Linked DNA regions of Homo sapiens. The protein of the gene in region 2 interacts with the protein of the main gene of each other region in a pairwise test. Each region holds a gene or a part of one and is shown on either strand. Other genes may lie near its edges.

What was found. The genes of interacting proteins can lie anywhere in the genome.
Region 1: the proteins of OSR2 (region 2) and PSMA3 interact in binary tests that used the Homo sapiens proteins (3 or more experiments, as listed by UniProt).

Annotation. Positions count from the first base shown.
Region 1 is NC_000014.9:58,243,565-58,247,642, reverse strand, and holds the start of PSMA3 (proteasome subunit alpha type-3), read right to left. Parts: upstream 2,801-4,078; 5' UTR 2,723-2,800; coding exon 2,702-2,722; intron 1-2,701. UniProt on the Homo sapiens protein: Component of the 20S core proteasome complex involved in the proteolytic degradation of most intracellular proteins. This complex plays numerous essential roles within the cell by associating with different regulatory particles.
Region 2 is NC_000008.11:98,947,442-98,950,020, reverse strand, and holds part of OSR2 (protein odd-skipped-related 2), read right to left. Parts: intron 1,849-2,579; coding exon of another isoform or gene 1,600-1,848; intron 1,505-1,599; exon of another isoform or gene 1,335-1,504; intron 1,183-1,334; coding exon of another isoform or gene 1,069-1,182; coding exon 413-1,068; intron 1-412. UniProt on the Homo sapiens protein: May be involved in the development of the mandibular molar tooth germ at the bud stage.

The sequences.
Region 1 (4,078 bases), on a different chromosome or scaffold from region 2:
AAGACCTTGCTTTCAAGAGAGGAAAGGGAAACTTGTCAGAGCAGCAACAGTAGCTAAGATAAAGCTATATACCTTCGATTTCAGCTATTGAAGAGTAATGGATACAGGTCCCAGGTGAAGTCAGAACACTTTTCACCCAGACTACAAAACTCATTTTTGAAAAAGATTAATATGGGGCAGTAGAACCAGCACTGGAGTTCGAACATTTAAATTTGTAACGATAACTCTGCCATTAACAAACTAAAAGACTTCAAACAAATCATTCGGCATTCACCAAGCAGTTAATGAGTATCTATTATGTTACTATACGGAATACAAAGGTATACTCATTCATTAAGTCCTTCAGTTTCACATCAGACATGAATCTAGGTGCTAGAGGTACAGCAGTAAATCAGAAAAGGCACTAAGATGAAAATAAAAGAGTAAAGCAATGAACTACTACAGACTACATCATCAGGGAAGGCCTTCTGGGCAGTTATATTTAGGCTGAGTCAAACCTAAATGACAAGGAGCTAGCCATTTAAGATATGAAGGAAAAGTCTTCTTGACATTTGGCACAAAGATCTTAGGGTAGAAATAAGGCTAGCACAGTCAAGAAACAGAAATAAGGTCACTGTGTCCCAAGCACTGTAAGCAGCAGAAAGAAGAGTAAACTGTGTTAGTGAGGTAGCTGAGGGCCAGATTATGTTGTGTCTTCCAGGATGGAAAAAGGACTCTGTATTTTATTCTAAATGCAATGAGAAATTTAAGCAGGGGGAGTGGTATCATCTATATTTTTAAAAACATCATTCTGGCTTTATGCGGAAAATAAGCTGTAGAGAGAACAACAGAAGCAAAGATAAGGTGTTCCAAAGATAGCGGTAGTAGCTTAGACGAGAGAAGAGGTAGAAGGGAATATTTTTTGAGAGTAGAGTAAAATATAAAAATAATAAAAATAAACTTGCTAGGCCAGGCGTGATGGCTCATGCCTGTAATCCCAGCACTTTGGGAGGGTGAGGCGGGCTGATCACAAGGTCAAGAGATGGAGACCATCCTGGCCAACATGGTGAAACCTCATCTCTACGAAAAATACAAAAATTAGCTGGGCGTGGTGGTGCGCACCTGTAGTCCCAGCTCTTCGGGAGGCTGAGACAGGAGAATTGCTTGAACCTGGGAGGCACAGGTTGCAGTGAGCCAAGATCGTGCCACTGCACTCCAGCCTGGCAACAGAGCAAGACTCCGTCTCAAACAAAATAAAAATAAAAAAATAAACTTGCTAAAGCGTTGGTTCTGGGAGTAAAGTAAAAAAAGGAATTAAAGATGAATAACAGATTTTTTCATATGACCATTCACTGAGCTGAAGACTGTAGTAGATGCAAAATGGCAAGGTGAGGAGAAAACCCAGAGCTCTACTTTCACATGCAGTACGAAATGACTATTAAACGATCAAGTGAACAGACATGTCAAGCAGACAAACAAATATTCGTATCTGGAGTTCTTGGGAGAAATGAAGACAGAAGAAAAGCCTTCAGCAGTGGTACTTTCTGAGTCTGTTTCCTGATCTGTTAAACCCAGATCATTAACCCTACCATTGTTACTAAAATATCCCACATGGTTACATTATCAAGTATTCTTTAAAAGGTTTGTAGAATGAAATACTATTAATTCAAGGTAATATTAATATAATTGCAAAGTCAGTTTGCTACAAGATTTAATATTGAGCATTTACTTATCCAAGAAAAGTATGGCAGAACTTTAGCATTCATAACTGAATGGATTAAACCATTCCAGACATAAGTTGCCTATTATCAAATTTAGAACACCGGTACTTGAACTTAAGGCTGAGCATGAGAATCTTGTTAAGAAGTAGAAATTGAGGAACTGAGAAACTCATTATTCAATAACTCTAGTGCAAATAACCAATAAATCTTTTAGAAACTGTATTTTCTATATAGAGAAGTACATAAAAGGAGTAAACTGACTGCACATATGCAATACGTTTAACAAAGGAAAGCCAAACAAGTTAACAAGTCCCACTGCAAAATCCTCAACAGTCTATGAAAAGTCTGAAGCTGTTAAGTTCCTAAGTAACCATTTAAACGTTTACGGAATAAATGCCTACAAGCGCTGTTAGGTAATTTGTATAGGAAAAACGAGAAAGGAAAAACTGAAGGATTCATCAGATTGTTTTTCAGACCATTTTTATTAGTTCTGTTCCGACAGGATTTCCAGTGACTCTTAAACTGAGCGGTCAATGATCTGCACACTTAAAGACAGAGAAGGCCTGTGAATCAGCAGCACCCTAGGAACTGCAAACGCAGTCCACAAAAAGCACGATCTCCAGACCCCGGAATCCCAAATCTCACTGCCTCGGTGGTTCTCAAGAGAACACACTATTTCAAGCCCCACGAGTTTCCACTTTCGGTTTCCCTAAGTGGCTGAAGAAAGTGACTCAGCAATCCAAAGCGGCTCCAAACCTCACTGCGGCGACGCCAAGCCGGCTACACCTGCGCTGAAAAGCTTCAGGAGTCACGGTCACCTGAGACGCAGGCCTAGCATATAGGGGATAAAGACGACCGGTCTCCAAACAGCTGCAAATGGCCCACCCAGCCGAAGGCGGTCTCAGAGCACCCCGGGTCCGCGAACCCCATGTGGTCTGTCCGAGTTCCCTTCAACCCCAATCCTTAGGTTAAACTATTACACCGACAGACAGCGAACTCACCCCAGTGCCGATTGAGCTCATCGTGCTAAACCCAAAGGGACGCGTAGGGATTCCAGGCCCGGAGCGCTTCCCCTATACCACAGGATGCCGCAAACTAGTAACAGGCCCGCTCATTGGCTGAACTGCCAACCAATAACCTTTTTCTCTGTGGCTCGTTCCGCGGCTCCGGCCCCCAGGACGAGGAGTATTGTGGGAAAAAAGCGGGCCGCGAGAGGCTGGCGGCGCGCATGTGCAGAAGCAATGGAGGCGGGGTTGGGGAAAGCAAAGGCTCCTCCTTCGGTTCGCGTACTTTGAGCCGCTTGGCGTCGTGGTATCTGAGAAGCTGCTCTATTCCTTTCCTTGGAATTATTATTTATCTTTTATATTATTATTCTCTCCTCACTTTATTCTTTCTTTAAGCCAAAGGGAGAGATGCTGGTATACTCTCACAAAAAGTAGAAAAAGCAGTAGGCGCGAAGTAACCTGTCTTCCTCCGCGTCCCGACCCTGACCCAGAATCTTGATGGCATCCACTTCACCTCCTTGTGCTCAGGCTCTCGTGAAGTTTCACTTAAAGGGTATCGTCTTTGAATTCAGCTTAGAATTTTACGGAAGTATTAGTGCTCTTTCTATGAGTATAACGCTTTTTGGTAAGAGTTAAAGATAAGTCTGATTAAAGATATTTTTTGAGCGCTAGTATATTCCACGTGTTCAAGAAAAAGCCGTGAACAGAGCATACCCCCATTTCTAATGTAATTTCCATTCAGTGGGAATAAATAGGTAACAATAAATAAGCAAAATAGTAAGAAGAAAGAGTGCTTTAATAGACAATGGAGGTACTAACTTTAGGCAGTGTGCTCAGGGAATGACTTTCTGAGTGAGTGATATTTAAACTAAAATAGGGTAACAAAAGACAGTGGTTTAGGGAACAGTAAAAAACTTGGCTTGCGCTGGGAACTGTCACGTCAGAGTGACCTCTCATAATGATTAAGTGGGGAAGAATGACAGGAAGAGAACAAGTGCACAGGAGACCAAATCTTGAAGTGGTTTGAATTTTAATCCGATTGTAAATAGGGCATCAGCATTTTTTTTACTCCTAAATATTAATACGTCAGTGTGTATTTTCCCCCAACACAGGAACATTATTTCACAGAGACACAGTATTATTGTGAAAATCAGAAAATTACCAATACTATGATCTATCAACTTTATGCATTTTTTTTTTTTTTTTGGTAAATGGCCCAATAATGTCCTTCATAGCAAAAGAAAATCCAAGATCACACCTTGCATTCAGTTGTCATGTTTCCAATCTGCTTTAGTCTGGAAAATAGTTGCTTAGTATTTCTTCAGTTTTCATGGCATGAACACTTTTGAAGAATACAAACCATTTATTTTGTAG
Region 2 (2,579 bases):
CTCTGGGGCGCACCTGGGTGGAGGGTGGGGGGTGGGGGGAGGGACGAAACCCAACAGAAGTAGCCCGACTGCAGCCAGGACCGGCACCCCAGGGTACCTGGGTTCTGCCTGCACCACTCCCCACAGCACCGGGAGGAGACAGGATAACCATCCCAGGACTAAGGCCAACAGATTGTTCCTGTCCAAGACTGAGGAAAGGCCCTCCCTCATTCCAAACAAGAACGTAGCAAGAGCCGCTGGGGGAAAGAAAGGGTAGATGTTGGGAATTAGCTGAACCGGGCTGAGGAGCGTGACTGAGGGTGTATTTTAGATCACAGGGGATTATAATGACACTGGGAATGTCTATCAGGACTCGGTGTGTCCAGGACAAATTCGCTTTCCCTCTCCCAGCCATCCTCCTTGCCCGCCTCACCTGTGATCCCGCAGGTGATCTTGCCTCCGGAAGGCCTTGTGGCAGATGTCACACGTGTACGGCCTCTCGTCCGTGTGGGTCCTCTCATGGATGAGCAAATTGTAGGATTTGGTAAAGTGTCTGCCGCAAAACTTGCAGATAAACTCTTTTTTCGTTTTGGAGGGCAACCTTCCTCGAGAGGGCTTTCTGTCCGGAGTCAATTTACTGAGGCCCGAGATGGGGCTACCCAGTCCTGGGCTCAGCTTGCTCAGGTCTCCCATCTTAGGCGGATCCTCTTGCGTGGCAGCCACCGCCAAATTGGCAAAGTCAAAACGGGGCCGGTCCTTGTGCAGGGCTGGGAGGACGTGGGCAATGGCCCCCTGCTTGGGGTGGAATAGGTGGGTGGTAAAAGGCAGGGCCGGGAAGGGGAAGCGCGCGTCCACGAGGCCCTGCGCCGCCGCCATCTCCGTGATGGTGGAGCGGGTGATCTCGTGCACATTGGGATACCCCAGCGTCCAGTGGTTCATGTGCATGGTCTGTACCGCGCTGAGACCGTACAGGCCCTGCAGGTGGTCCACCGTGGCCGGGAAGGTGTTCACGGCCTGCAGGAAGGAGTAATTGGTGAGCTGCAGCGACGGGTGGAGCGGGATGGGCGCTGGCAGAGCCTTGCTCCCCATTTTCCGGGATGCTGGGGGTGCTGAGGGGACCAACCCTTTCTTCCAGGAATCAGAGGCCGGAGGGCGTGGGGCTCCGACAAAAACCCAGTGAGACAACAGCACGTAGAGAAAGCCCTAAAAATGGCAGGGAAGAGAGGGAGAGACCGTGACTATAATCCAAGGCTGCTCCTTCTGCCCTTTGGCACCTGCGCAGGTTACCACACCTAAGTCTCCCTCCCCACCCGACTCCAAGACCCCCCGAAAGCCGTGAGGGGACTGCGTGGCACCTTGGCACCTGCTCAAGTCCGCGTGCAGATCAGCCCGGGGCCAGAACAAGAAGTGCTCCACTGGCGAGCGCGTGCCCAAAGGAAAGAAAGTCGGATTCAGACTCTAGGCAGATACGGAGCGGAAGACTCCTCGGTCCCAGGAAAACGAAAGGCGGACAGCCGGGCAGCACCCAGCCCAGCCCAGCCCAGCCCAGCCCACCCTCCCCAAGCCTGTTAGGCGAAGCTCAGTCAACCGCAATGCCAATGCTAGCAGGCCGGGGCGAACCTCTGTCGCCGCTGCGCCTCGGAGCTCCTGGGAACGGTGGGTTAACGGATGGGTCGTGAGATCCCACGCGCTGCGCTGCCGCCGCGCCCTGTGGCCGCCTTTCCCGCGCTTACCCGGATGGCAAGCCGGCGTGCAAGAGCGAAGCCGGCGCGCTTCATCCTCCTGGGCCAGAGGGCCCTGGGAGGGGCTCACCTCGCCCCGCACTGACCTCGGAGGTTTTCTTTTTCCTTCCTCTGCCCTCAGCCCCATCTATCAGCGGTGACGGGCCGCAGGAAAGAAAAGTGACACCTCAGGGGCTGGATTCGGCCTAGAATCGCCCCCTCCTCCTATCCACGGGCTCTCCTCCCAACCCCCGACTAAGATCCCTTCCAGATGGTTCAGGCTCCCAGGGGGTGGGGTGGGGGCGGAGAACGTCCCTGAGGCCAGAGGAACCCCTTTTCCCAGACTGAGCGCCAAGCTCTTGGGAGGCCTGAGCTGCTTCCCGGCCTGGCACCGAGGAGCGACCCCTACATCCCTCCACCCGGGATGCCCCAGGAGACGAGAGAGGAGAGAGAAGAGAGGGGAGAGGAGAGAGGAGAGCGCTCCGGGGAGGGAGAGGAAAGGAGCTGCAGGGGAGCTGCAGTAGGCCAAGCACAGAGTGGCCCTGCTGGCTTGCAGGAACCTTGTCCGTTGGCCTGGAGGTGAGTGCGGCTGCGGTCCCACCACCAGGACGCCCGGCCTGGGCCTAAGCAGGGCGCTTCCCCTCTCTCCGTGCTCCCAATGGCAACACAGGTCTGATTTCAGACCCAGGTTCCCGGGATCACCTCACCTACATTCACAGCGGGCCCACCTTCTCCCACTACCAGCCCCTTTTTAGAAAGGAGTTCTGCCAGTTCGGGGGACCAGGGCCTTCCCTCTGAGGGCAGACCCCCAGGTGTAGGAGTCACGTTTCCCAGTCTGTGCCACCAACCGCCAAGCCTGGCATTTGAACCCAGCAGGAA